7 linked regions of the Homo sapiens genome follow. The protein of the gene in region 1 interacts with the protein of each later gene in a pairwise test. Each region holds a gene or a part of one and is shown on either strand. Other genes may lie near its edges. The genes, in order: PYGM, CDC42BPB, INTS4, PPP1R3B, NIPSNAP2, IGBP1 and ARID1B.

Evidence for each region.
Region 2: the proteins of PYGM (region 1) and CDC42BPB interact in a two-hybrid assay, tested with the Homo sapiens proteins (one large-scale study listed by BioGRID and IntAct).
Region 3: the proteins of PYGM (region 1) and INTS4 interact in a two-hybrid assay, tested with the Homo sapiens proteins (one large-scale study listed by BioGRID and IntAct).
Region 4: the proteins of PYGM (region 1) and PPP1R3B interact in a two-hybrid assay, tested with the Homo sapiens proteins (one large-scale study listed by BioGRID and IntAct).
Region 5: the proteins of PYGM (region 1) and NIPSNAP2 interact in a two-hybrid assay, tested with the Homo sapiens proteins (one large-scale study listed by BioGRID and IntAct).
Region 6: the proteins of PYGM (region 1) and IGBP1 interact in a two-hybrid assay, tested with the Homo sapiens proteins (one large-scale study listed by BioGRID and IntAct).
Region 7: the proteins of PYGM (region 1) and ARID1B interact in a two-hybrid assay, tested with the Homo sapiens proteins (one large-scale study listed by BioGRID and IntAct).

The regions. Positions count from the first base shown.
Region 1 is NC_000011.10:64,753,151-64,757,573, forward strand, and holds part of PYGM (glycogen phosphorylase, muscle form), read right to left. Parts: intron 2,409-4,423; coding exon 2,297-2,408; intron 2,206-2,296; coding exon 2,123-2,205; intron 1,687-2,122; coding exon 1,543-1,686; intron 1,196-1,542; coding exon 1,103-1,195; intron 876-1,102; coding exon 729-875; intron 533-728; coding exon 369-532; intron 38-368; coding exon 1-37. UniProt on the Homo sapiens protein: Allosteric enzyme that catalyzes the rate-limiting step in glycogen catabolism, the phosphorolytic cleavage of glycogen to produce glucose-1-phosphate, and plays a central role in maintaining cellular and organismal glucose homeostasis.
Region 2 is NC_000014.9:103,047,173-103,051,595, forward strand, and holds part of CDC42BPB (serine/threonine-protein kinase MRCK beta), read right to left. Parts: intron 1-4,423. UniProt on the Homo sapiens protein: Serine/threonine-protein kinase which is an important downstream effector of CDC42 and plays a role in the regulation of cytoskeleton reorganization and cell migration. Regulates actin cytoskeletal reorganization via phosphorylation of PPP1R12C and MYL9/MLC2.
Region 3 is NC_000011.10:77,925,115-77,929,537, forward strand, and holds part of INTS4 (integrator complex subunit 4), read right to left. Parts: intron 3,434-4,423; coding exon 3,228-3,433; intron 1-3,227. UniProt on the Homo sapiens protein: Component of the integrator complex, a multiprotein complex that terminates RNA polymerase II (Pol II) transcription in the promoter-proximal region of genes.
Region 4 is NC_000008.11:9,147,859-9,151,942, reverse strand, and holds the start of PPP1R3B (protein phosphatase 1 regulatory subunit 3B), read left to right. Parts: upstream 1-1,284; 5' UTR 1,285-1,380; intron 1,381-4,084. UniProt on the Homo sapiens protein: Acts as a glycogen-targeting subunit for phosphatase PP1. Facilitates interaction of the PP1 with enzymes of the glycogen metabolism and regulates its activity.
Region 5 is NC_000007.14:55,997,209-56,000,679, reverse strand, and holds the end of NIPSNAP2 (protein NipSnap homolog 2), read right to left. Parts: intron 3,315-3,471; coding exon 3,231-3,314; intron 1,673-3,230; coding exon 1,608-1,672; 3' UTR 501-1,607; downstream 1-500. UniProt on the Homo sapiens protein: Protein involved in mitophagy by facilitating recruitment of the autophagy machinery required for clearance of damaged mitochondria.
Region 6 is NC_000023.11:70,160,649-70,165,071, forward strand, and holds part of IGBP1 (immunoglobulin-binding protein 1), read left to right. Parts: exon of another isoform or gene 1-1,816; intron 1,817-4,423. UniProt on the Homo sapiens protein: Associated to surface IgM-receptor; may be involved in signal transduction.
Region 7 is NC_000006.12:157,199,455-157,203,877, reverse strand, and holds part of ARID1B (AT-rich interactive domain-containing protein 1B), read right to left. Parts: intron 3,174-4,423; coding exon 2,390-3,173; intron 13-2,389; coding exon 1-12. UniProt on the Homo sapiens protein: Involved in transcriptional activation and repression of select genes by chromatin remodeling (alteration of DNA-nucleosome topology).

The sequences.
Region 1 (4,423 bases):
GAACTTATGAGGCTCCAGCTCATAGAAGTCTTTGAAGCTGCAGGATGAGGTTGGACGAGGGTCACCACTCACCCCTGTACAATGAAGGCCTCTGCCCTGGGGCCCCTACCCTGGTGTCTTGCTGAAAGGGGCCTGGGGCAGGGAATGCAGACCTGGGGAAGGTTGGGGGTGCTGTGTGTAAGAGGAGGTCATCTCAGGACAGGGCGGCACTGGAAGGGGCTGCTGTGCTTGTAAGAATGACGCCACCTGTGAAAGGCGCCAGGGCCCAGAGACCAGAGAGTGGTCGGTGAAGGGCGGGGCTTCTGTGTGACAGAGGCGTGGAGTGGGTGGGGCCTAGAGAGGGGCGGGATCTGGAAAGCGGGGCTCACATGGTCTTCTTGAGGATCTCGGAGTGGATGCGCGCCACGCCGTTGACGGCGTGCGACCCCGCGATGCACAGGTGTGCCATGTTGATGCGCTTCACTGCGCCCTCCTCCACCAGCGACATGCGCCGCAGCCGGTCTACGTCCCCTGGGAATGCGGCCGCCACCCGCTGTGCCCAGAGAGCCCAGAGCTAGAACCAGACCCAGGAACCCCCATCCCCAGTCCCCAGCCCCACACCCCCAGAGCTCTGCCCAGTGCCCCCACTGCCCCAGAGTCTCAGGGCCCTGGCTGGACGCCCCGACTCCCAGGCCCAGACTGGGTGTCCCCCCTCACCCCCACACCATCCCCCAAGCCTCCGGACTCACGTTGAGGAAGCGCTGGTTGATCTCGTAGATGATCTGGAGGTGCCGCGGCAGCAGCGTCTCCAAGAGGTGCACCGGCCAGCGCTCCAGGGCCTCGGGCAGCACCGTGTGGTTGGTGTAGGCACAGGTCCTCACTGTCACATCCCACGCCTGGCACACGGGGTGGGCAGTCAGGATGCTGACCTCAGCCCAGTGGGTCTCCTCACACACTACGCATCCCAGTGGGCCCCCCCACTGCAGTGCCAGGTTCCAGGACGGTCCCTCTGGCCTCAGGCTCTGATCCCTTCACTCCATTCATATCCTCCCACGCTCCCAAACTGGGAAGGGAACCCCGAGGCAGAGAGCATCAGATGGGGCAGAGGGGCCCTGAAGCCCACCTTGTCCCAGTCCATCCGTTCCAGGTCCACCAGGATCCTCATCAGCTCGGGGATGGCCAGGGAGGGGTGGGTGTCATTGAGCTGGATGGCCACCTGGGGTAGGGGGAGGGGTCAGTCTGGGCTCCAAACCACATTCCATGCTATGGTCACTGCCCTATGCCATTTGGAGGCCCCCAGAGAGCCCAGCACGGTTCTGTGACTGGGCTGTGGGCAGAGGCAGGCCGGTGCTCATGGGGGTGGGAGGAATGGGGGGAGTGGGGCGGGAGGAGGAGGGAAGCCCAGGTTCTGAGCCTGTGGATTGTGAATCCTGAACAACTGACCCTCCCACACTCCCAGTCTCCACTCCCTTATCTATTACATGGGGCAGGCAGGCCGAGGCTGGAGGGAGAGGCCTAGCACACACTGTCCGGTCACAGAGTCGCCCTCCACACGCATGGTACCTTATCTGGGAAGGCATCGAAGTTCGTGCGCACGGGATCACGGCAGCCGAACTTGGAAGACTTGAAGCGACGGATGATGTCCTGGAGGGTGGCAGCCACCACGAAATACTCCTGCTTCAGCCGCAGCTCCTTCCCTTCGAAGAACTGGGGACAGCATGAGGCAGCGTGAGTCAGGGCGGTGGGGGCATGGCCTAAAGCTGCGGTGGGTGTGGCCAGGAGGGACTCCCACCCATACCGGGACCCCTGAGCCCTGAGCCGGCCCCCTCTCTGGGACCCAGGGGCCTTTCCTCCACCAAGAACTAGTGGCGAGAGACAGTGTCAGGAAGAGGGGTACAAGAACCGAGTGTGTTGTGGGTGTCGCCAGGGAACAGCCCCTCCAAAGTGCCCTTCGCTAACCCAGTTTCCTCAGGACTCAGGTGTCCTTGCACTCAAAAGACTTGAGGTGGGGGCACAGGATGCACAAGGCCAGCAATATGCCCTGGGTGTGACTAGGGCACCAGCAAGTGTCCTTCCCCAGCTCTCCCTGACCCCTGCTGCCAAGGACTCAGGCTTCCAGCCCCCAGCCCAGGGGGTGACGCACATTATCATTGGGGTACAGGACACGAGAGATGTTCTCCGCCAGGTTTCGGTCCAACACAGCCTGGATGTAGCCACCGACATTGACTGAGGGACAAAAGTGGGGACAGGGTAAGGCCTGCGCTGGGCGTGGCCGGCGGGCAAGCTGGGGTTGCTGGCTACCAGTGGATGAACTCACAGTCCTTGAGGTTGAAGTCATTGGGAGCCTTGGCAGACCAGAGGCGCATGGTGTTGACAACATTGTTGCGATAGCCAGGCACGGGCGTATCGTAGGGCATGGCCAGTACCACCTGCGGGGGGCAATCCTGTCAGGAGCTGGCCAGCCCTGGCAATTGCCTCCCTCCCCTCAGGGCTGGGACTCAAGGCTTTATCCCTGCACTCTGCAGACCCAGGCTCTTGTCCTTGTCTAGCATCGATGAGCTGGGTAACCATGAGCAAACCCCATAGTCTCTCTGGACCGCATCTAGAGCAAAGACACCCTCAACACCTCCCCGACACCCATAAGCCCTGCCTGGGCAGACGGTGGTGAGGAAAATGGAAGGAGGCAGGTGATAAGCCCGGAACCCAGGAGGGGCTCTGTTGGCGACCACTCTGCAGCAATGGGGGCTGGGCTGGCCAGCCTGGCCTGAGCAAAAGCTAGAGGACACTGTGGACTCATGAGAGGGCTGGGGGAACCCAGGGCCAGGCTGAAGGGGTCACAGAGGTCAAGTCCATCCAAAGGTCTCATCTCTGGTTGACCACAGGGCTAATTCACGGTGACTAATTCTGCCCCGCCTTCCATAACTAGCAAACATCAATAATTGTCTGCTACCACGGTGCCAGGGGTACATTCACTCCTCTAAGCGAGCCCTTTTAAGGGGCATCGCCCTCCCTCCCCACATTCAGTCACCCTGATTGGTGCAGGGTGGGAGTTGACACAGAGAGAGGGAAGGGACCCATCCCCGAGCACACAGCCAGGCTGGCAGCACCAGAGGGAGCCAGGTCTCCTGCCTTCCAGCCACAGCCACTTGTGCCAGTTGCCACGTGCACCTGGCATGGACTGCCAGCAGCCCCCACTGCATCTTAACCTGGAGGACAACAAACAAATGCTCAGTTCTGAAAGCCTAGTGGTTTATCTGCAGCCCATCTGGGGGCTGATGACCTGAAGCTTCAGCAGGAAGATTGCCTGAACTGGGATTTGTTTTTTGTTTGTTTGTTTTTGAGATGGGACCTCACTCTGTTACCCAGGCTGGAGTGCAGTGGCACTATCTTGGCTCACTGTAACCTCCACCTCCTGGATTCAAGCGATTCTCTGGCTTCAGCCTCCTGAGTGGCTGGGATTACAGGCACGTGCCACCATGCCCGGCTAATGTTTTTGTGTTTTTAGTAGAGACTGGGTTTCACCATATTGGTCAGGCTAGTCTTGAACTCCTGACCTCAGGTGATCCACCTGCCTTGGCCTCCCAAAGTGCTGAGATTACAGGTGTAAGTCACCACGCCCGGCCTAAACTGGGATTTGTACACCTGGTTTGGTTTTAAGGTTTTCAGTTTTTGGTCTTTTTGCTTTTTGAAACAGTCTCACTCTGTCACACAGGCTGGCTGGAGTGCAGTTGTACAATCATAGCTCACTGCAGCCTTTAAATCCTGGACTCAAGTGATCCTCCCACTGAAGCCTCAGAGTAGCTGGGACTACAGGCATGCACCAGCACCCTGGCTAATTTTTTAAATTTTTTTTTTGAGACGAGGTCTGGCTCTGTCACCCAGGCTCCTGGGCTCAAGCAGTTCTCCCACTTCAGCCACCCGAGTAGCTGGGACTACAGGCGCACACCATCACGCCTGGCTAATTTTTGTATTTTTTGTAGACGGGGTTTCGCCCTCTTGTCCAGGCTGGTCTCGAACTCCTGAGCTCAAGCAATCTGCTCACCTTGGCCTCCCAAAGTGCTGGGATTACAGGTATGACCCACTGCCCCAGTCTATTTTTTTTATTTTTTGTAGAGACAGGGTCTCTCTATGTTGCCCAGGCTGGTCTTGAAATCCTGAACTCAAGCCATACTGTCACCTCGGCCTTCTAAAGTGCTGGGATTACGGGCATGAGCCACTGTGTCTAGATTTGGTTTGGTTTTAGGATCCCTCTAACTTGCTGTGTGATGAGTGAATTCCTTTCGGAAGGCTCCAGTTTTCTCCTGTCCCCCTTTCTGGGCTGCTGCTGTCGAGATGTTCAGGGCAGACTCAAGTCGCCAAGATGGTCCTTTGATAAATCTCATGGTGTGGAGTGGAGCCAGGTCATGGGGAGACACTGGGGGAGCAGGGCAGCCTCTCTCCCCTT
Region 2 (4,423 bases), on another chromosome or scaffold:
ACTTGGGAGGCTGAGGCAGGAGAATCACTTGAACCTGGGAGGCGGAGGTTCCTGTGAGCTCAGATCACGCCACTGCACTCCAGCCAGGGCAACAGAGTAATACTCTCAAAAAAAAAAAAAAAAAAAATTAGAACAAACATTAAAACTACAGTATTATCAACAAAAGTTCCCCAGAGCTGAAGGACCCAAGCGTCCCAATCAAAAAGACCCACCAAAGAACATTAGAGATAAACAAGAGTTCCCTGAAAGCTTCCAGAGATTTTACAAAAGAAAAGTCCCACACAGAGACTTGGAAACCATCGTGGTCTCCGACTTCTCATTACCAACACTCTCAGTGTAGACAGCAATGCCTCCATGCTTTCAAACTTCTGAGGAACAATGACTTCCAACCTAGAATTCTGTACGCAGGCAAAGTGCCATTCAAATGTGAGGGAAGAAAGGGCATTTTCAGCCAGGCATGGTGACTCATGCCTGTAATCCTGACACTTGGGGAGGCCGAAGCGGGCAGATTCCCTGAGCTCAGGAGTTCGAGACCAGTCTGGGCAACATGGTGAAACCCTGTCTCTACTAAAATACAAAAAATTAGCTGGGTGTGGTGGTGTGCACCTGCAGTCCCAGCTACTCGGGAGGCTGAGGCAGGAGAACTGCTTGAACCGGGAGGTGGAGGTTGCAGTGAGCCAAGATTGCACCACTGCACTCCAGCCTGGGCAACAGAGCAAGACTCTGTGTCCAAAAAAAAAAGCATTTTCAGACAGACCTGGTTCAAAAAATTCACCTCCGATGAATTCTTTCTCAGGAAGCTACTAGAAGATTCACTCCACCAAAAGATGAAAGACACAGAATCCAGAAAGGGGAATTCAACAGAGGAAAGAGACACGAAGAATCCCTGCAAGGAATGAAAAGCACTCCAAGGAGGACTGCTCAGTAGCAGGCCCGCAGGACACCCGGCCCAGGCTGAAACAGAAAAGTGGCAGGCCTGGAAGGGATGAAGGTGATAAGATTATGTGAGGTGTTTAATGGAGGAGTTCTAGTTAAAAGCCTGGCACTAAATTCATGACTGTACATTGAAAACCAAGCTAAAGAAAATTCGGCCGGGAGCGGTGGCTCACTCCTGTAATCCTAGCACTTCAGGAGGCCAATGCGGGCGGACTGCTTGAGGTCAGGAGTTCAAGATCAGCCTGGCCAACATGGTGAAACCCCATCTGTACTAAAAACACAAAAATTAGCCAGGCATGGCTGGGCGCGGTAGCTCACGCCTATAATCCCAGCACTCTGGGAGGATGAGGCAGGTGGATCACGAGGTCAGGAGATGGAGACCATCCTGGCTAACACGGTGAAACCCTGTTTCTACTAAAAATACAAAAAAAAAAAAAAAAAAAAAAAAAAAAATTAGCCAGGCATGGTGGCGGGCGCCTGTAGTCCCAGCTACTCGAGAGGCTCAGACAGAATGGTGTGAACCCAGGAGGCGGAGCCTGCAGTGAGCCGAGATCGGGCCACTGCACTCCAGCCTGGGCGACAGAGCAAGACTCCGTCTCAAAAAAAAAAAAAAAAATTAGCCAGGTGTGATGGTGGGTGCCTGTAATCCCAGCTACTCGGGAGACTGAGGCAGGAGAATCACTTGAACCCGGGAGGCGGAGGCTGCAGTGAGCCAAGATCATGCCACTGCACTCCAGCCTGGGCAACAGAATGAGCCTCCATCTCCAAAAAAAAAAAAATTTACTCCATGGGATTATTATAAGAAAAGAAAATAAAGAAAATTCACTCCAATAACACAAAACTATTTCCCTTAGTAAACTGTATCTTACATGGCTTAGCTGTGAAGACAGTTACCTAACAATAAGAATGCAGACACTGAATTACCAATTTAAACAAAATTATATAAACATATTTGGAACACAGAAAAAGAGCAAGGGGTGAATGTGTTTCAGGCAGTGGAGGGACAATGTAGAACAGTTCTAAGGCCTCTTCTACAGCAGAAGTCAGCAATGTCTAAAATGGTAAAATCAGAAATTAGCAGTACCAGCATGCTACACAGAAATATGAAATTTAAGGCAGGCATTGCTAAGCACCCACCAATATCCAAGGATCTTCTATAGTAACATCCCACCCCCGGCCTGCTTGGCTGAAGGAGGGTGGGATGGCCACCGTCTCAGATGGTGGCCTGAGGGTGGGAAAAGGCCACAGCCCCGGAGGCCTCTTGGAGCAAGGCTGTCCAACTAGCACTGACTGCTGACACGTCAACTTCACGTGAGAGAAATCAACCTGATTTTATTTAAGTCACTGTCACTTTGTTCTCCATTACTGGCAGCTAAATGTGATCCTAACTAAAATGATAAGTAGAAACAGAGCAGTTAAAAGTGGTAGTCTGTGGGAAGTTGGAGCGCGGAGCAAGCGACTGGTAGAGGGACTGCTGTCTTGCACTACAACCCAGTAGTACCGCTTAGTTTCCAAAACTAAGTAAATGCATTACATTGATAAAAGTTAAATGATGTTAAAAGAAAATCACCCCATGGGGCATGGTGGGAAGTGCTGTTAACCTTAACTTTTTTTATTTATTTGAGACAAAATTTTGCTCTTGTTGCCCACGCTGGAGAGCAATGGCACAATCTCGGCTCACTGCAACCTCCGCCTCCCGGGTTTAAGTGATTCTCCTGCCTCAGCCTCCTGAGTAGCTGGGATTACAGGCGTGCGCCACCAGCCCGGCTAATTTTTGTATTTTTAGTAGAGACGGGGTTTCACCATGTTGGCCAGGCTGGTCTTGAACTACTGACCTTGTGATCCACCCGTCTCGGCCTCCCAAAGTGCTGGGATTACAGGCATGAGCCAACACACCCGGCCATAACCTTAACTTCTAAAGCTAAGATTAGATGCGTCTTTTGGGGTCAATTTCAAATTCTAATACTGAATTGTGGATATCAGACTTTTTATTTTAAAGGCAACAGAATATGAAGGCATTGTAGTTTTGGAAAGGCAGAGTGATGAAGAGAGTTTGAGACTGATCTGGCAGAGGTATTTAAAACTTCAAGTGGGAAAGGCATTCATTTAGGCCTGAGGACCTGAGAGCTTTACCTAGGTCCCTGACAATGAGAATAGAAAGAAAAGGCTAAAATAAAATAAAGATATTTCAAAGCAGGCACCTGCAAGGAGGCCTGAGGCTGACCGCAGTCCTGTGAAGGACAGAAATGCTGGTTAGAGGGCTGTTTGCCCAGAAACGGTTAGGGAAAATGCTCAGAACCTGGTTTACCCAACCTGAGTGGGGAGTGGGCTGGAGGGCAGGTTAACATGACCTCCCCAAATTCCTAACATAGCGGAGCGCAGTGGCTCACACTTATAATCCCAACATTTGGGAGGCCAAGGTAGGAGGATTACTTGAGCCTGAGTTCAATTCCACCCTGGGCAACACAGCAAGACCTCGTTTCCACAAAAAATAAAAAATTAGCCAGGTGTAGCGGTGTATGCCTATTGTCCCAGCTATTCAGGAGGCTGAGGCTGGAGGACTGCCTGAGCCTGGGAAGTCAAGGCTGCAGTGAGACATGACAGAGCCACTACACTCCAGCCTGGGTAACAGAGCAAGACCCTGTCTTGGGGGGAAAAAAAAAAATTCTTAACAGTTTTCCAACCTATGACTCTGCAATTTTGGAGGTCAGGGAAATCATCACCTAAATTAACACTGGGAATCACCTTACAATAGGTCCCAAATGTTCTCCAAAGACTCTCCAATCCAAGGACCGAATTTGAATGAAATTATATCATTCCATTCAAATTTATGTTTGAATTTCTAATTCCTAAGAAAAACAAAAATCCAAAGAAGTTCTCTATTACACATCGATTTTTTGCAGTTTTAATCAAAAAACAATTTTGTTGCCACTGTTACCTACCAATCAATAAAACTAACCAAAAACCTAACCCCCAACACAGATTGTTTAAAATCAAACTGAAACTTGACCTTTATCTCCCAGTTAGTGGCTAGTGTATTTGGGGCGGGGGGGCGGGAGATTACTACACGCAGTTCACATTGCCAAAACACTTCTGATTTTAGATTTAAGGAGAGGGTGTTTCCTCTCATCCATTCTCATTAGCAAGAGAGGCTTTCTGTGAGCTTCTCACACAAATTTAAGGTAACCATAACATACCGTCATCCCATAACACTAAGAATCTAAGAAAAAAACAAACGTGGTCAAGGACTAATAGGTATTATGTTATGGGTTTTGGGATGAGATTACATGGTAACATTGTTTTTAGTCTCTTCCAGCTAAAAAAAAAAAAAAAAAAGCTTTGTCTCTTTTCAGAGAAAAGCATTTGACAGTTTCACTGTATTTAATATAGTTTGGAATTAACAGTCCTGTGTGCCTGCCTGTTTATCCAGTATCACTAATGTCAGCGCAACCAGGAGACATCTAAGGGCACCTGGCTTGCGACAAGA
Region 3 (4,423 bases), about 13 Mb from region 1:
CCTATCTGGAACTCAATCATGATGCTGAAGGTACAAGAGCCTTTTTGCAACTAGGAAAAAGGACAGGCTAAGAAGAAAGGCTAAGAGAGAGGCTGGGAATGGCCAGTTAGCAGAACACTCAGAACACACATACTTATTAAGTTTGCCATCTTATACAGGCACAGTTTGTGGCATCCCAAAACAATTACAACAGTAACATCAAAGATCACTGATCACAGATCACTGTAACAGATGTAATAATGAAAAAGTTTGAAATATTGCAAGAATTACCAAAATGTGACACAGACATAAAGTGAGCACATGCTATTGGAAAAATGGCACCGATAGACTTGCTCAATGCATGGTTGCCGCAATCTCTCAATTTATTAAAAAAACACAATATCTGCAAAGCCCAATAAAGAGAGGTATACCTGTATGTGTTAAATGGAGGAGTGAGGGAAAAAGTCAATCTATCTGAAGTGAATTTCAAGATTTCAAGAATGAGAAATATTAAAAGAGAGGCAAATCGAAATGTCACTCCTATCCATAAAATTCTGCAACAGTTTTCCATAATGTTAGAATAAAATCCAGACATCTTAAAATGGCCTACAAGGCTCTCCACCTGTCCCTAATCCCCTCTCAGACTTCATCTCATGCCACATTTCTACTTTCTCACTGTGGTTCACTCCTACTGGCTTTCTCTCTATTCTGCAAACACAACAAAGCTCACTTGTGTTTTAGAGCCTTTCCACTAGCTGTTGCCTCTACCTGAAGTTATTCTCCCAGTCTTCACATAGCTAGCTTCTGTTTATCATTCAAGACTCAACTTGAACATCATCTCCTCAGAAAGTCTTTACTAACCACTCAAATTACAGAGAAATTCCCCATTCCTCAATCATACTGTTTATCTTCTGCAAAACATTTATCACCATCTGAAATCATTTTGTTTGTTTACTCCACCTCTCTTTAGAATATAAGTTTTATGACAGCAGGGATCCTGCCTGTTTTGATATCCCTATATTTCTAATACATAGACAGTGCTTGTTGAATAAAGAAGTGAATTTTTCTAGGCAGGGTAGGATCTTGACATAGCAGGAAAAAAAAAAGGCAAATTCCAGCTGGAAGGGTCAGCAAGGTAAGGCTCAAAGCAATGAAGCCCAGTGACACAGAAAATATAAGGGAGAAGTACACAGCAGGGTGGAAGAATAGTCTACTGTAAGTTTATATTGGTCTGAACTCCTGAAAAGAATTAAAAGGCAAGGATTCTTTGTGAGTTATATACATAAGTACTCACAAATAAGCATACCTGTGAACAATTCTGTACATCAAAACATAGCTTGGAACATAGCTCAGCTACTCAGCAAACACTTACCGAGCACCTAATTGTGCCAGACACTGCTGCAAGACATTGGTAATAAAAAAATGAAGAGTCAGCCGGGCACGGTGGCTCACACCATAATCCCAGCACTTTGGGAGGCCAAGGTGGGTGGATCACTTGAGGTCAGGAGTTCGAGACCAGCCTGGCCAATATGGTGAAACACGATCTCTACTAAAAAAAAAAATATATACAAAAATTAGTATTGTGGTGCGTGCCTGTAATCCCAGCTGCTCGGGAGACTGAGGCAGGAGAATTGCTTGAACCCAGGAGGTGAAGGTTGCAGTAAGCCAAGATCGTACCACCGCACTCCACCCTGGGGAACAGAGCGAGACTCAGCCTCAAAAAAAAAAAAAAAGGAAAGGAAAGGAAAGGAAAAAGGAAAGGAAAGGAAAAGAAAAGAAAAGTCAAGACACCTTGAGGAGCTCACAGTCTTATGAAATAGAGAATTACTGAAAAATGCTACAGCAGTATACACAGGGTGCTATGGGAATAGAGTGGTGGCATTTAGCCCACCCAGTGCTGGGAGTAACAGTTAGGGAAGGCTTCCTGGATATGTTACCTAATATAGGCTGTGGGAATAAGTGGACGTCTCCTGGGTTAAAGTGGCAGTTTTGCAAACTGTGGGGGAAAATTACATTGAAGGTAAAATTGTGAGGAAAAGCAATATGTGTAGGAAAGTGACTTCAGCATAAAGTTCAAGGTGAGGAATGGTGGAAAAGAAAGCTAAAAAGGAAAGGAGTGGCTAGGCTATGTATGAGGCCACCCATGAAGAACCGCACATAGAATGTAAACTTATTTTTAGGAAAAAATACATGAAAAAATTATAAAGATTTATAATTCAGGAAAAATCTCAGTAGAAGTGCTAAGCAGCTGAGAGAATGGTAGGGACCTTCAAAACCAAAGCACCAGCTATTCTTTAAAGTACGCAGTAGAAATCTGTTACAAGTGTTCTAAAAACTAAGCACCTAATCACTATCCCTTTCACATCTGAACCCCATCTTCCCCAAAAAAGGAAACCAGAGGACAAACCCCATTTATGAATACTCTGAAGAACTTGAGTAGTTGCAATTAAAATCCAGACATTTTAGAAAAATAATACAAGAACCACCTAGAGCTGTATGGCCTGGGAAGCAACTCTCTGTTTACATTCTGGTTCAGCCACTAACTCAAACAACTTATTTTTTTCTCTATAAAATTCCCAGGGTAGAATGAATCAATCCCTAAGATCACTTGCTGCTATAACAGCCTATGATTCACTACAAGAATAAAATCAAATTAAAGGTTGAAAAGAACTCTTCATTATTTAGCCCCTACCTTATCTATAGCCACGTCCTCCACTCTTCCATCTCTTCAACTCTACACTATCATTATAATAAACTCTTTTTAGTTCCTTGAATATATCATATTCTGTCTTATCTCTGCATCTTTAGACATTGCTCCCTCTGTCTGGTACCCTTTCATCCTACCACCAGTGTCACTTCTCCTTTAAAAAAGATGCACTTCAGCCTGAGTGACAGAGTGAGACCCTGTCTCAAAAGAAGAAGGCAAAAAAAAGCCTAGTTAAGTCCTACTCCTCCTTCAAGTGTCCACTACAGCACTTCCTCCTTCTTCCCAACCTCACCTCAGCCAATTCAGGTTAGACACTATGTATTCCCTAGGCATCCTATCCTTTCTTGATCACAGAAAGACCAAGCTTATTCAAATTTCCTGTTTCACAGTCAATTTCTTCCATCTTAGGGAAGGGGTATGGTGAGAAAACAGAACTGTGCTCCCTGATATAGTGTTCTGTCACCAATGCCTAGCACAATACCTGATTTTAACAGGGGGGGGTGAGGGATGAAGAAATGAGTAACAAATTAGAAACACTCACCTCTAGCACAGCCAGGACAGTGTCAAGCTGATCTTCTCGGAGGGTGATGTTGTTAGAGATTTTTCTCATGGTATGTATAGACTGCAGACGTACTTCCTCAATTTCATCGTTGAACATGTCAACTAGGAAATCAAGGCACTTCTCAGCAAAAGAGGGTGAAGACTGGGCCAACATGCAGAGGGCCTCCACAGCAGCAATACGAACCTCTAGAAAAAAGAACAAATGAAATTGCACATCAGGCTGGGCACAGTGGCTCACGCCTGTAATCCCAGCACTTTGGGAGGCCAAGGGAGGCAGATCACTTGAGCCCGCCTATGCAATGTGGTAAAACTCTGTTTCTACCAAAAATATTAAAAAATTAGCTGGGTGTGGTAGCGTGCGCCTGTTGTCTCAGCTACTTGGGAGGCTGAGAAGGGAGGATCACTTGAACCTGGGAGGCAGAAATTACAGTTAGCCAAGGTCATGCCACTGCACTCCAGCCTGGTGACAGAATGAGACCCTATCTCAAAACAAAACACACAAAAAACAAATTAGCCAAGTGTGGTGGCACACGCCTATAGTCCCATCTACTTGGGAGGCTGAGGCAGGAAGATCACTTGTGCCCAGGAGTTTGAGCCTGCAGTGAGCCATGATCGTGCCACTACACTCCATCCTGGTGACAGAGTGGGCCCCTGTCTCAAAAAAAAAAAAAACTCCAAAAACAAAAAAACAAAAACTGCACATCAGCCAGGTGCAGTGCCATACACCAAAGTCCCAGCTACTCAGGAAGCTGAGGTGGGAGGATCATTTGAGCTCAGGAGTTCAAGGCTGGCCTGAGCAACACACTGAAGCCCCATATTTTATATATATATATAAAGTAACTCATATCAAATTAAGAGCCATGGGATAAGTCCAAGATGGATTCCTTCTCCTTCAGGCTGTCTTCTATTCTCTACTCCTCTCATTCTATAAACTCTCCCTGGGAGATCTCTATGCCCACAGTTTCACATACCACCCACCTTAACGTCGATCTAAGAACATGGACTTTAGTATCACAAGGACTATGGCTTAAATCTGACACCACATATATGTGATGAAGTCACATGTCTGTCTACATTAACTTCTTGAAAATTAAATTGTCTTACTTATCTCAGTATTCTGACCACAGTACTTTTTAAAAAGTCAGTTAGTAAATAATGTTATCATTAAGATTAAAG
Region 4 (4,084 bases), on another chromosome or scaffold:
GGAAATTTCTTCTGAAGTATACCTACCTGTGAAACCCTCCATATCTGGGGCGCTCTGTGCCACGGGTGTCAGACTTTTGCAAAAGCCCTGTCATTCTAACGGGACGCCCTCCTGTAGGAAGTTGCCCCCTGGCGCCCGTCCTCCGGCTTCTGATGAAACGGCGACCCACCACCCCCTTCCCAGACCCTGGCCCGCAGCCGGATCACTCCGGGCGCGCTGCCGATCACGTGGCGAAGCGGTGCTCCCCAGCGCCGTGGCTGCGCGCCCATTGGTCGGCGGCTGGAGTCCCGGGCGCGCCCATTGGCTGCGGGGGGCGTTCACGTGGCAGGGGGCCTGGGATGGACCCCGGGGTCCCGAGAGCTGGCAGGAAAGTTAAAGGGGGCAGCGCGGCCGCGGGGAGCTCGAGTCCCGGGTGACTGCTGGAGGGAGGAGGTGACCGCGCAGCTCTCGTGCACGGACGGACTTCGCCGCCCGCGGGGGGCGCGAACCCGAGCCCGGGCCCAGCTCCTGCCGTCACGGCAGCTGTCCCTGTTCCCCCAGGGCGTATGCTGCCGCGGGCTGGCGCGTCTGCCCTCGGGACTTATGAGCTGAACCCGGTACGTAGCTCCCCAAGTCTCGAGTCCGAGGGAAGGGCTGGGGACAACAAGGCGAGGGCGTGCAGCGGGGACCTCTTTGGGTTCCTGTCACCTACATTTTCACCGTGCGACTTGCACTGGCACACCGGGGCTGGAACACTCTAGGTAGCTGGCCCCAGGGAGCTGTTGCTTCAGCGTGGAGAGGGCGATCCAGGGACCGCAGCTGGGAAGCGCCTCCCGGGCCCACGTGCTCCACCGCGCTGCTGGGCCCGGCTGCGACCGTGACCCGGGAGCTGCGGCTGCGGCGGCTGATCCCTTTACCACCTGTTGTTCTGGCTTCGAAACTAGCACAAGTTCCCAGCCCCGGGTCCCGAGAGGTCTGGAGACTTCTCCAAAGTTGGGTAGTGGGGTTTGGAGCTTAAGGACAAGCCGCTTCGTCTCTCTCCGGGCCTTATTTTCCCTATAAAACGCGAGGAAATACACTTGGTAGGCTCTCAGGCCACCGAGGGCGACGGGACCTAGCACGATCCCCGTCCCGGGCTGGCGGAGGCCAGGCGGCCGCGCGGGGGTGCTGGTGTCGCGCTGCTTGCTCCGGCCGGGGTTGCCCCTTTGCCGGCCCCGCCCGGGTGCGATAACGGGCTCCTCCTCCTCGTCGTCTTCCTCCCACCGCCGACATCTCCGGGAACCCAGCCCAGGCCCTGCCTCCCGGACACACCGACGCTCACGTAGTCGCGCTTGCCACAACCCTGCGGGCTCTCCGATGCGGCGAGCGAGCTGGGGAGGGGGCTTCTCCGCGGCCCAAAAGGTGGGTGCGGCGCGAGGCCAAGGAGGCTTGTAGGGAGGTTGGGGGCGGAGTGCAGCCCTGGTCAAACTGGACGGAGGGGACAGAGTCGGAGAGTAACTTGTGGGATCCTCCAGCCTGGAGAGCACTGGCCTGCTCCTGCGTCTCTTTGGAATCCAGAAAAAGGGGTGTGGAAGGCACAGTAGCTGCAAAAGAGGGAGTGGGGGCCGGTAATGACTTACTGGAAGATTTGGGGCCTGTCAGAGCACTGTTTTCTGAAAAAGAGGAGAAAACAGAGGAAAGACTGGACTTGGGAACTTGGAGACTTGGAAGGTGTTGGAACCTGTGGTCTGAGTGGCGGGGGCCTGCCTGGGAGACCCAGGGTGCAGCAGAAGAGACAATTAGAGCTTTGGTCTGGGAGGAAGAGGAGGAGAGGAGGAAATGTTTCCTTGGGCAGAGTTGTCCAGGAGCCAAAACTAAAGTGAAGACAGCTGGAGGACTTACACAAAAGTACAGTTGAGGTATTTAGGAAAAAAAGTTAGTGGGAAGAGAAGCGGCACCAGGGGTGGGTCGCAACATACAATGTCAGGGCCAGCAGGGACCTTGGAGGGGACCTCAAGCCCAGAGCAGCTGAGTGACTCGCTCAAGTAGCAAAGCAAGGTGCGGGCATTCTTAGCCTAGTACTCTGTTTTCCCTCGTACGTTTTTAGACGGCAGGGGCTGTGTCATTTGAACTTGCCTCTTTCCTAGAATATGCAACTGTATTCACAAATGTCAGTCTCCAAGATGCTTTGGATGATGGGGACAGGATCAAGGGGTACAAGGAGCCTTTAAGGCTGTGAATAGGCCCCCATGGTCTGAGTACAAAGGGGAAAGACATGCACTCTCTTCATGCTGGATCAGTGAAACCTTTTGGAAGGGAACACAGAATTGTTGGAGGGAGGTAGATGGCCATGTCTTTAAAAATGAAAATTATAACCTGGTTGTGAATGTTTACTGAATGCAGTTCGGCAGCTTTCAGTGTTCCTGGTGGGTTGCTTGTGCATCTGATTTTTTTGTTTGTTTGGTTTTGTTTGTTTGTTTTGAGACGGAGTGTCGCTCTGTCGCCCAGGCTGGAGTGCAGTGGCGCCATCTCTGGCTCATTGTAAGCTCCGCCTCCCGGGTTCACGCCATTCTCCTGCCTCGGCCTCCTGAGTAGCTGGGACTACAGGCGCCCGCCACCACGCCCAGCTAATTTTTATTTGTATTTTTAGTAGAGACGGGGTTTCACCGTGTTAGCCAGGATGGTGTCGATCTCCTGACCTCGTGATCTGCCCGCCTCGGCCTCCCAAAGTGCTGGGATTACAGGCGTGAGCCACCACGCCCGGCCTTTTTTTGCCTTTTTTTTTTTTTTTTGAGACGTAGTTTCGCTCTGTCGCCCAGGCTGGACTGCAGTGGCGCCATCTCGGCTCACTGCAAGCTCCGCCTCCCGGGTTCGCGCCATTCTCCTGCCTCGGCCTCCTGAGTAGCTGGGACTACAGGCGCCCGCCGCCACGCCCGGCTAATTTTTTTTTTTTGTATTTTTAGTAGAGACGGGGTTTCACCGTGTTCGCCAGGATGGTCTCGATCTCCTGATCTCGTGATCCGCCCGCCTCGGCCTCCCAAAGTGCTGGGATTACAGGCGTGAGCCACCACGCCCGGCCTTTTTGTCTTTTCTTACCAGAAGAAAGAGAGAGAGAGAATAAGAGAATGGAGGGGATAATGTCGTGGCCCTGATACAAAAAAGATTTCCTCCCTATGAAAGGTACAGCCAGAAAGTCAGTAGTTCAGCTGCCTGAAACCGTGAAGGTCATAGGGTTATTTTCTGTGCAGGTCTATAGTTATCACCATGGCCGTCTAACCTTGGCCAGCTGTCTTGAGAAGGTGTGTTATGAGTGGAACAGATAAAGCATTTATGCAAAACTATCTCCATGATCTGTTAGGGTTTGCCCTGTCTTAGCCATGAACACTGTAATCTACCCTCAAGCATGGCCCAGTCTCTCACCAGAGAAACTGATCCCTGAGCTCTGAGGCATCTCTATGGAAGCAAGTGTTTGAGAATTCATACCTACCTGGGAGCAGCACTCATACACTCATTCCTATCCTGCAACTGGTATCAGATCCTGAGTCCTGCTCTCATGGTTCAAATGTATGTCCATAACTTCTGGTTCTTTTTTTTTCCCCCTTGGCCAACTTTGGTGACTCATATTCCCTGGCCTGGGAAAAGGACAGAGCTGGAGCAGCCAGAGAGTCTGTCAGGAGAGGAGGCTGGGCTGCAGCCTGGTGCTTCCTGTGTTGGAACCGATCATTTTCATGTCATTTGTAAAAGAAGCACCTGTCCAGGTGCCTTCTTTTCAGGAACTTAATATTACCTTGCACATCTCAGTTGCTAGGAGTACTTCTGCATGGCGGCAGCCATCCCTGTCACAGTCCGCTGGGGAGTTCCTGAGCAGTTCAGGAAAGCCTACACCAAACCAGCACTTTGGTGTGCTGATTCTTGGAGAATGACCTGGTAAATAAAATCTGGAAGCTATCTGTGGGACAGGCAAGGTGACTGACAGTCGAGTCATACCCCAGATTGAGGCCACACAGGTTAATGTCCTCACCTGCAGTTATGGTGACACACAAAGTGAAGGGATTCTAGACTGGGGTTGCTTGTGCAATGTCCCTGGGGTAGTAGTCCTGCGGGTAACTCTTGAGCCATCATAACC
Region 5 (3,471 bases), on another chromosome or scaffold:
CTGCCTCAGCCTCCTGAGTAGCTGGGACTACAGGCACATGCTACCATGCCCAACTAATTTTTCGATTTTTTGTAGAGATGAGGTTTCATTCATGTTGCCCAGGCTGGTCTCAAACTCCTGCGTTCAAGGGATCCTCTGGCCTCGGCCTCCCAAAGTGTTGGAATTACTGGTGTGAGCCACTGGGCCCGGCCACTAGGGTCTTTCTAATGGCCTCCAACACTCAAGGGATCCAGCCCTGTGACCTCTGAGCTCGTGTCCCACCACACTCTCCCTCATGTCTGCTTCTGCCACTGGCTTCTGCTGCCCTCAGCACATACCAGGCATGACCTTGCCCAGGGCCTCGTAATTTGTTCCTATGGAGGGATTTTCCCCAGAAGCCAGCTGACTTCCTCACTTCCTTCAATCTTTTGTGACAAGCTATTTTGCAAGAGTGACAAGGTCATTCACAGCAATGTTTGTCAATCTCAGAACAAATTAAAAAAGAAAATCCAAACGTGATATGTGGAAATTAAGAGGATTTTATTGACTTTTCTATGTTCTTTGAGAAAATCATTCACATGTAAAAGTTTGACATTTGATATGAGATTTATTCACACTTTACACATACATTCTTGATTGTGGGGCAGACAATTGTTCATTTCAACAGGACTTTCACATGGTAACAGTCACAAAATTGGCATACTATATTAAAAAATGAAATCAAACAGCTAGACAAAAAGTATGCAGCTTTATGCCAATTTAAATCTCAACATGCACCACCCCTCACCCATGATCTCAGAATTATCTGCTGTGAGCTTATTAAAATATTAGCCAGAGAGTGTCTGAGGTCACAAATGATCGTTTACAAAATAAAACCTCTTTTCCTAGAGCTACTTGTTTTGTTATAGAAAAATACCACAAATAAAAATTAGTGCTATTCAAGGTGTTCATTTCAAAATCACATATGATACACAAGTTTCAAGCCATTGTTTTTGTGTCTCACATTGAAACATCACAATACATGATGTGAAACTGATTTACTGATTAAATGTACCTTGCCCAGCTTGGAAAACCCATTGTCTACTATGTGGACTGCTTACAAATGAGAGTGAGTTAAAACATTTTCAGTTATTGGGTACACTTGTAATTTGTTCCTCCTCAGAAACTACTCAGAAAAACTGCTTGAGAAACATGACAAAATTTGTATTTCTTCCTGATACAAGAAATTTGTCTAAAAATCTGTGATTATAAAACAGATTTGTTTTTTGGTTTTTTTTAGTAAAGAAATGGCTAAATTTTTTTTGTGGTTGGAATCTTATTTTCAAGATGATTCAGAATTCAACGTGGACCCCTTCTGGAGGGTGGGGAGAAGTGGCTCAGTGTTATAAGGTATACTGGACAACACGGGGTGTTTCAAAGAGGACGACAAGGCACTGTCACAATCAGTCCAACTGTAATTCTTTCCTTTCTTGTGATTATGTAAATTTTAAAGAAAAGAGGTTTCTCACAAGCTATATACAGCAGCTTAAAACCTCAGTGTTTCTTTTTCACTTGATACACAATTAAAATTAATTTACGACAAATACTTGTCACAGAAATGTATGTAGGCACATAGAAACTCTACAGCTTTACTGGAGGGGCGAGGTCTTCAGTGGGATCATGATTCTGGATTCCATTTCCTGAATAAGTGGAACTGAAAACAAGATCAGGGTTACTGCACTTGTTACTTTCTAAACACATTATGGTAAATGACACTAACAGACAGATTGCCGAGAATGTTCACAGATGTGCTGCTTGAAAACAAGAGAATATCATAATATACAGGACTAACCTCAAGGGCAGAAATATACAAGCGGACCCTGTATCAGCTGCCATCCTACAAGATGCTATTAAAATTACAACAGATCAGCTGGGCGCAGATCACCTGTAATCCCAGCACTTTGGGAGGCTGAGGCAGGTGGATCACGAGGTCAGGAAATCGAGACCATCCTGGCCAACAGGGTGAAACCCTGTCTCTAGTAAAAATACAAAACTTAGCTGGGTGTGGTGGCGCCTGCCTGTAATCCCAGCTACTCAGGAGGCTGAGGCGGGAGAATCGCTTGAAACCGGGAGGCGGAGGTTGCAGTGAGCCGAGATCGCGTCACTGCACTCCAGCCTGGCGACAGAACAAGACTCCGTCTCAAAAAAAAAAAAAAAAAAAAAAAAAACAGATCCTACCTGGATATTTGTTTTATTTGTGGGAGGTAGGAAAAGTCCATACTGTGAGGAGAAATGGTGATTTCTCAAACGTTCGCGTAAGCAGCAAAATCAAATACAATTATATAATTATAACATGTAATTATATGTTATATAATCTCTTGAACTGAAAGACAAGGTAACACCTACTTTCTAGGACAAATTACTCTTTTATTTTCTTGGTAGTATAGGGGCTGAGATACACTTTTTTTTTTTTGAGACGGATTCTTGCTCTGTCACCCAGGCTGGAGTGCAGTGGCACAATCTCCACCTCCCAGGTTCAAGCGATTCTCCTGCCTCAGTCTCTCAAATGGAGACAGGTTTCATCATGTTCGTCAGGCTGGTCTCGAACTCCCGACCTCAGGTGATCTGCCCACCTCAGCCTCCCAAAGTGCTGGGATTACAGGCGTGAGCCACTGCGCCCGGCCTGAAATATACTTGCCATGCAACATGGCTGGTACTGATTACCTCTACCAATGCCACTGGGTTACATTCAGCCAACTGTTTTCTTTTAAAAATCAAGCAAACAGGGTTTCATAATATACTTATGTATGTGCACATGCATGTATTATGTACCCAGATACATACTGTACATACAGGAAGTTTAATTTATCTAATTTCAAAATCACTCTTTAATTGATGTATTAAGTTCTGATTTGGGATACTAACAATTCTGATGGAAAAGGAAAGCTTAGAAAAAAATTTTATTTGTGTAATAAGTTTTCAGAGAATATAGAAATCTACAAAAACAGGTAATGATGTAAAATTTACAACATCCAAGGGTCTGAAAACTGTAACAGATGATATACCTATTTGAAAGCATGGATATTCTACTTTATTGAAAAAAAGTCATGTAAGTATTAGAGAAAAATTGACTATCTCCCTTCCCCCCACAACCTGATAACTCACTATCCTAGCAACATACTATTACAAAACCCACCTATTAGTGTCAGGGTGAAAGAACATGATTGAAACAGTAAGACAAAAAGCATATTTCATGGCTGTTAAGAGATTACCTGTGTAATATACCAATTCCTCCCAGCCATGTTTGTGCCATGCTGCATTCCGTATGTCTTCCCTGGTCTGAAGATCCCTGTAAGCTTAAAAATAACCACACAGAGAAGTAAGACTTAAAACACATACACTGCATTCCACCCATACATCCGTTAAAGTCTTGCTTCACCTGGACATCTAGTTTTCTCAGGGACTACTTCAGGTGTGTAATATACTGGGCTGGGGAAATTCTGAGCAAAATTA
Region 6 (4,423 bases), on another chromosome or scaffold:
AGGTAGCAAGCGTTAAATGTACAGTTACTTGTAGAATTAAGATGAAATGAGGATTAAAAGGGAGATAGAGTATGTAATGCCTATGTGCCCAGATAATGTAGATAACTTTTTAAAAATGGAGAAATGGGGAAATCATGCAAAATTTTAACAGTTCTCAGTAATTATATTGGTGGAGTGTCAAAGTTAGTGTTATTATTCCAAGACTATGTATAATGTGAGATAATATAAATGAGCAGTTATTAGATAATCTAATTCTATCATCCTCTGTCTTTGAGAACTAGGACTTTTAATGTGAAAGAATACAGATGTAATTCCAAAGAATTTAGATTTTTTTTAAACCCTGTAGTACTCCATATGAACTCATGAGAAATTTTATTTAAAACTAAACACACACACACACCCACCCCTGCTTTTGCTCTATTCACTGAAAAGGCTTAGAAACAAGGACCAGCCCAGTAGCAATGAGTATACCTAGTAACTCCAATTGTGATACAGAAATATTCTTCCCAATATTCTTTCTTTTAAGAAATCAGGGTGTCTTAGAGAAATAACTGACTACAATTCTGGGGCAGGAAATATACAAATAAGCTTGGAACATCTTGTCATAAAAGATAGGGAAGGAGCTTTCAAAGACTACTGGGGTCATATCGAGCCAATTTAAAGATGTTTCCACTGGCCAATTCGGTTTCACAGAGGATAATTGACAGTAGCAACAAGTCCATCCAACACCCAAATCTTGGTTTCTAATACCATCCTCTAATAAATGAACCAGGGCTCCTTGGAGAAATAGCTGATTCTAGGGCTGAGGCAGGGAATATACAAGATGAACCTGGAGCATCTCGTAGTCAGATGATAGTCAACGTATGATGGGGTTATATCCTGGTAAAGCCATTCTAAGTTGAAAATATTGTTAAGTTGATAATGCATTTGCTATACCCAACCTACCCAACATCACAGCTTAGCCTAACCTACCTTCGACCTGCTCAGAACACTTACGTTAGTCCACAGTTGGGCAAAATCATCTAACACAAAGCCTATTTTATACTAAAATATTGAATATCTCAAAATATGAGGTATGGCTTTTACTGTATGCATGTCACTTTCACACCATCATAAACTTGAAAAATCTTAACTCAGGGCTCTCTGTACTAGAAAACAAGAGCTCAAAAAACTGTTGGGGTGTTAAAGGAACACAAGAGCCAGCTGCACCCTCACAGCCCAAAACTGGGAGAACTTGGGCAGGAAAGTAAATTTAACAGTATTGGATTATCACACTAGGAATAAAATGAATACACACAAGTCCATTGTGATAGAAATAAGTGGTTGAATAAGTAAATAAATGAGGGAGAAGAGATAAATCTCCCCTACAGAAAAATTTCAATTAATTTTATGTAGATACTCCTGCTTCAAGGAGGTGTAGCATGACTGTGTACCCCGAAAGTGTGGGCTGTGCTTAGTGACTTGCTTCCAGAGACTGCAATGTGGAAGGAGACAGGAGAAGTAACTTTAGTTGGAAACCTACAAATACCACTTTGGTCAGGTCATCGAGGTTATTATCAGTGTGAAGTCAGGTTGATAGCATATATAGTATTGTCCTCCAAAACCCATAACCCTAGTCTAATTCTGTAAAAAATAGGCAACCCAAACTGAGGGACATTCTACAAAATACCTGACAAGTACTCTTCAAAACTGTCCAGGTCATCAGAATGAAGGAAAGTCTGAGAAAGAGTTACATCCTAGAGGAGACTAAAGAAACAGACAACAAAATGTACTGTGGTGACCTGGATAGGATCCTGGAACGGAAAAGGGACATTAGGTAAAACCTAAGGACATTTGAGTAATGTATGCACTTTAGTTGTTAATAATATATTAGTATTGGTTCATTAGTTGTATCACAGAAACTGTATTAATGTAAGAGGTTGATGATAAGAAACTGGGTGTGGTTATGTAGGAACTCAGTACTATTTTCTCAATTTTTCTGTAAATTGAAAACTTCTAAAATTAAGAAGTTGATTTAAATAGTTTTTTAAAACAATAATTGTGGGCCGGGCGCGGTGGCTCACGCCTGTAATTCCAGCACTTTGGGAGGCTTAGGTGGGTGGATCACTTGAGGTCAGAAGTTCAAGACCAGCCTGGCCAATGTGATAAAACCCCATCTCTACTAAAAATGCAAAAAGTAGCCAGGCGTGGTGGCACATGCCTGTAATGCCAGCCACTCGGGAGGATGAGACAGGAGAATCGCTTGAGCCCAGGAGGCGGAGGTTGCAGTGAGCCAAGATCACACCACTGCACTCCAGCCTGGGTGACAGAGCAAGACTCCTTTGTCTCAAAAATAATAATAATAGTTGCAACTGGCTGAAACTCACCAGATATGTTTAAATCTCTAAGTTCATAATTATATATATATATTTTTATTTTTTTAGAGGTGGGTCTCACACTCTGAGCCCAGGCCAGGCTCAAGCAATCCTCCTGCCTCAGCCTCTCGAGTGAGTAGGACTACAGCCATGCACTACCATGCCTGGCAGATTTTAAAAGTTTTTTTCTTTTTTATAATTTTTTGAGCCAATATAAGTGTCATAAATATTTTTTTTGTAGACACAGGGTCTCGCCATCTTGCCCAGGATGATCTCGAACTCCTGGGTTCAAGCAGTCCTCCCACCTCAGCCTCTCAAAGTGCTGTGATTACAGGTGTGAGCCATCGTGCCCAGCCCATAATTATATTATAAAACAAGACCAAATTATTCAACCTCAGAGGCTAATAAGGGAACCCAATATCTTGAGAAATGGTAAATAAAGGGAAAGAGTCAAGTATTTTATCTTTTCTACTAGGTAACCAAATAGTAGTTGATGAGGGGAAGGCTCTCTTTGTAAAAGTATTCCAGTTAATTTTAAAAAGTTAAAATTAAGGGTATCACCTTTTTGAAACCCCCCAATAAATGAATGGGTCTCGGCATTGAGCATCAACAGCTCCTAACATTACAACGAGACAGAGATATTTACATGCCTCCTGATGAAGGAATGCAGCACCACCTATAATTATAATTCATGCTGAAGGGATCAAACTTGAGTCAAATCAAGCCTCTGTATTCAGCTGCCAATCTGCAGAAAATAAAGGAGGACATGTTAGACTGCATCATGAGTATGCAATCAGCAAAATCCAGTCTTTGGGAAACAAACTCTACAGGTCATATGCCCCAACTTCTTCAACAGATAACTTGAAAGAAAGGGGTGGAGGGGGAACCCATAGATTTAAAAAGATATCAAAACATTTTTAAATAGGCAAGGCTAACCTCAAAAATACGATGCTAGGCCAGGCGCAGTGGCTCACACCTGTAATCCCAGCACTTTGGGAGGCCGAGGCAGGCAGATCACTTGAGGTCAGGAGTTCGAGACCAGCGTGGCCAATGTGGTGAAACCCCATGTCTACTAAAAATACAAAAATTAGCTGAGTGTGGTGGCAGGCACCTTTAATCCCAGCTACTCGGGAGACTGAGGCAGGAGAATTACTTGAACCCGGGAGGTGGAGGTTGCAGTGAGCCAAGATCGCACCACTGCTCTCCAGCCTGGGAGACAGAGCAAGACTGTCTCAACAACAACAACAAAAAAAGGTGATGATGCTAAGTGAAAGAAGTCAGCCGCAAAAGATCACAGATTACATGATTTTGATTTCATGTGTATGAAATGTCCAGAATAGGCACATCTATGGAGACAGAAAGTTGATTCATGGTTCTAGGAGCTGGGGGCAGGGAGGGAAGGAATGGGAATTAACTGTAAATGGGCACAAGGGATCTTTTGGGGTTATAGAATTTTTTAAATTGGATTGTGGTGATAGTTGCACAACTCTGTACTAAAAAATACATTGAGTAAAAAAATGAATGTACAAATGGACAATTACAGTGTCTAGTGGTATGCACTTGGGTGATAAAGCTGTGATGAACTCTAGGAAGTTATTACTATAAAAAGCAGTATAGAGGTTACTTTTGCAGGGGAGGAGAGTTGATTTGTATAATGTACACAGAGAGGCTTTTAGGGTGGATACAGGAGATCTGTTTCTTGACCTGAGTGGAGGCTATAAGGCCTCCTTACAAAAATTTGTTTTATATGTACTTGTGTGGTTTCCACCATGTTTTATTTTATAGTAAAGGGTTTAAAAGAAAAGAACGAGGCAAGGTGGCTCACGCCTGTAACCCCAGCACTTTGGGAGGGCCGAGACCAGCCTGGGCAACATAGGGGAAGACCTTGTCTCCACAAAAAATGTAAAAATTAGCCAAGTGTGGTGGTTCATGCCTGTGGTTCCAGCTACTCGGGAGGCTGAGGCAGGAGGATGACTTGAGCCCAGGAGTTCGAGGCTACAGTTAGCCATGATCACACCACTGTACTCCAGCCTAGGCAACAGAGAGAAACCCTATCTCAGAAAAAAAGA
Region 7 (4,423 bases), on another chromosome or scaffold:
CCTCAGGAGTAACTGAAGATGGGGAAGAACAAGGATATCATGAATGTTGACTCTATGCATGAAAGAACGAAAGTTAACGAAAGAGTAAGAAAAAATAAGTGGAGTGTTAAGTTAAATATTGACTTTAAACAAATGCTCTCAAGGACAGTTAAGCGTGATCATTTCCGATTTTAAATGGAGGCCATAGCTGTAACGAGAAACTTTTGTGGTTTCAGATCTCGCTTTGTTGGTCACGCAGGGGCCGAAAGTGCTTCTGGAGGTGGAGTGGTTGAGCACAGATGGTCCTTTCTCATGGCCGGGTTATTTCTTTCAGCCACCCTACAGAGTCTGCAATGTGGTATCAGAGCTTTTAATAAATGAGTCAAACCCAAAAGTGGTATTTGTCTTCTTTTGGCTTCACCACTCACGAGTGTCTCAAGGTGGCGTCCTGGAAGGCCGCCAAGTATGCAGAACATGGAAGCAAAATTTAACTCCAAGACAGCCTCCTCAGACACACGGCCTTGGCTTCCCAGGCTGCTTTCCTCTAGTCCTGTGCTCCTGCCCTCAGAACATGCTGTGATAAATATTAGCACTTTGATGGCTCAGATTTCTCAGGAGTATGGCTGGAGCCACAGAATGGGAAGTAATTTGTTGTTTTCCCTATTCCTGCTACTGAAGGAAACAAAATGATCAGGTAGAAAGTTTGGAAGATTTGCCATGAGACCCAGCTCGGCCAGATCCCTGGAGCTGCCTGGAGGCTGGGGGCATTCTCCAGGCACCAAGAATCATTGCATGAGGGGGAGACACCGTGGCTTTTCCACTTTTATTTTATCTGTTTTAAAATTTTCTAAGATAGCTACATACTGTTTTTACAATAAAAAAATCAAAATTACTTTTAAAAATAAACATGTAAATTTCCCTAGGTTGAAGACAAATGCTATATAACCCGCACTGGGAGATTTTTAGAAAATTTAGATGTATTTATTTAAACATACATATACACACATAAACACACAATACACGTGTGTGTGTGTGTATATATTTCTATATATAAAATGGTGCTCAGTGTCTGTGTCTCCTTCTCTCCCTCTGCAACCCCATATAAATACACACACACACATATTCTATATATATCTATATATCTATATTTATATCTATCTATATATATATATAAAGGGATATAGATACACATGCATTATATATAAATGGATAGATATATATAAAGGAATATGTGTGTGTGTGTGTGTGTATACAGTGGCACAGTCACTGCTGAAGCCTTGATCTCCTGGGCTCAAGTGATCCTCCTACCTCAGCCTCCTGAATAGCTGGGACTACAGAAATGAATCTCACTTTTGGCTAATTTTTTTTCTTTTTAGTAGAGACGAGGTTTTGCTAGGTTGTCCAAGGGTGGTCTCGAATTCCTGAGTTCAAGTGATTCTCCTGCCCTGGTCTCTCAATCTACATCTCCTTAATGTCCAGTGATTGATGTCTTTCAAATTATTAATATCTTTAATTTTCTAATCACTGAAAAAGATTTTAAGTCAATTTGTTCTTGATATTTTTTGAGTAATTTTTCCTAATATAACTCAGATCTATTATCTTCCTTCCTGTGTTAAAAGTACTTCAAAAATAATGCAGAAACCCTGTGTGTACTTCCAGATAGTCCAGACCTCTGATTAGTATTCAGAACATCCCACAGAGGATAAACAAGCAACATCAGCATTCGATTGACATGGTTCTTGGCCCAAGTCTACCAGTGCATTGGATGATATCAGTTCTATGTATCACAGCATAGCATATTCTTTATGTCATACCATCTATCAATCTACATATTACATACAAGCTTTAACTTTTTCCCACGGAAATTCACTGTATGTTGTCACCAAATTACAGAGTGGCTTGCCTTCAGATTTTCTCAGGTCACCTTTAGCATTTCATTAGCCTCATGGGGGGGTCTGTTAGGCACGTATTGTAGTGATTAAGTGGCTTGGTTAAGTTCAAATCTTTAAGCCCAAAATACAGCATATAACCACTCAGGATTCCCTGATCTCTTACTTGAAGCTCTAATCTTTCACACAAATAACATTCACACGTAAAACTACCATTTTATTTCACCGTGTTATCCAGGATGGTCTCGATCTCGTGACCTCGTGATCCACCCGCCTGGGCCTCCCAAAGTGCTGGTATTACAGGCATGAGCCACCGCGCCCGGCCAATCTTTCTGGCACTATTTCTTAATTCAGATTAGCAGCCTCCAACTATATTACTCCTATATAAAAACGCATCTTGATAACTTCTAGTCATAATTTTTTCATCCCTTTAAGATGAGCAGGAACAGCATCTTTACTAAAATTAAAATTCTACACTGCAACTGGAATTCATTTCAGAATGAAAGCTTTGGAATTCTTACCGATATCTTTGGAGGTAATCTTTCGCCTTTGTTTCAAGACTGGTTGTGATGCTTCTACTGAGCCAGGAGGAAAGGTGATCTCCCTTCTGATTGGGGGTGGTTGGGGTGGTGGCCCGGTGACCTGGGATGTGGGGACCGTGGGCATGACCTTCTGCATCTTCATAGACGGCAGAAAAGGAGACTTGCTTGGAGACATGCGGTTCTCCAGGGAGCGCTGGAAGGACGCTGGGCTGGGCGCCCTGGAGATGTGATTTGGCAGTGACGGTGGCGTCTGGTAGGACGGCTGTGGTGGGCGTGTGATGGGCTGCATGGAGGCTGAGGACGACATATAAGGCTGACGCTGGCTGACGTGAGAAGGCCACTGGCTCTCATGATTTATCCTCTGATCGGGTACCATCATATCGTCTGTGCGGTTCATGCCTGGGTAAGGGGGCGCCTGTGTAGGGCCGCCAGGGCCCTGCCTGTTCTGGTAGGGATAAGGCATATCATTGCGTGCTGCCCACATATTCTGCTGAGGCCCCTCACTGGAGGACGACTGCAGCGGGCCGCCCATCATCTGAGGCGGGATTCCGTGTGTCTGGATCTGCCCCGGGCCCTGCATCCTCTCCCTGCTGTAGGGATACGGGTACTGGCCCTGGATGGGCCTGCGGTCCGGGCCCGAGTAGGAGCCTCCATACTGGTTGTACATCTCCTGCTGCTGGCTGCTGTACTGCATGTTGTACATGTCGCCCTCGTGGCGCTTGGCTGGGGGCCCGTACATGCCGTCCATATGGCGTTTGTAATTCTGGAATTCACAGAAAGACAAATCATCCTGATGTGCTCTTACAGGTATAATCACACACTGAAATTATGCAAAATAGTTATTACCTGCTAGAATGTTCATTTCAAAATGAATATGGGAAGCTCCTATAACAACAGAGAACTAACAATTTATGTTCAATATTTCAGTATTATATACACCATGTCACACACTGAGGAGAGAGCATCCAAAGTTTGTTTTCACGTGTTTGAAACTTCCTGTGGAAAAAAAAAAGCCTCCTCTCCTTAGGCTGTGCCACCGGGACAGCCAGCGTTCAACTCCCACACAGGCAGACGGCTCCCGGGCTGGGAGCTGCACTAGGACCACAGCAGGAGGCAGAAGGACCCTCTCACAGGAAAGCCAGCATCCAGGGGCCGGCCTGAAAGGGTCTTGGGGTAAAAGGGTTTCTTGGGCCTCATTTTACAGAAAAGCCCCCGAACAGGACTCGGCTCCCCAGACTGGCCCGTGTCACCCAACATCCATCCCACGGCTCCTGCCCTGACTTCTGGCCTGGTCAGGTGTGGCTCCCCCAAAGCCCCACTGGTCCCAGCACTGAGGACAGGGCTGGGACCACACCTGTTATTAAGCTTGCTTCCCAGGATGCTCCGGGACCAGTGCTTAATCGGGGTAGGTGGGACTCTGATGGGAGGCAGTGAGATGCTGATGTTTTCCACTTTACTTGAAAACTGTTTAAGATCAGTTGGTTTAATAATGCAATTCACTGGCCAGGCGCAGTGACTCACGCCTGTAATCCCAGCACTTTGGGAGGCTGAGGCAGGAGGATCACCTGAGGTCAGGAGTTCAAGACCAGCCTGGCCAACATGGTGAAACCCCGTCTCTTATAGTAAAAATACAAAAATTAGCTGGGCATGGTGGCGGGTGCCTGTAGTCCCAGCTGCTTGGGAGGCTGAGGCAGGAGAATCGCTTGAGCCCAGGAGGCAGAGGTTGCAGTGAGCCGAGATTGCACCACTGGATTCCAGACAGAGCGAGACTCCATCTCAAAAAAAGAAAAAAAGCAATTCCTTGTGCCTATATGCTCCAGCAAAATTAAATAAATGAAAAATGATATACATATTATTATATATAATTATTATAATTATATAACATATATATAGTTTTCAAAATTTTTATTTTTTGCAAGAGTTCTCAGATCTGAAAAGTTTTTTAAAAACAGCAAAGTCCTGTATGTCTGGAAAGCCACACCACGAAGGGCGGTTCCTGCAGCGGCACTGGTC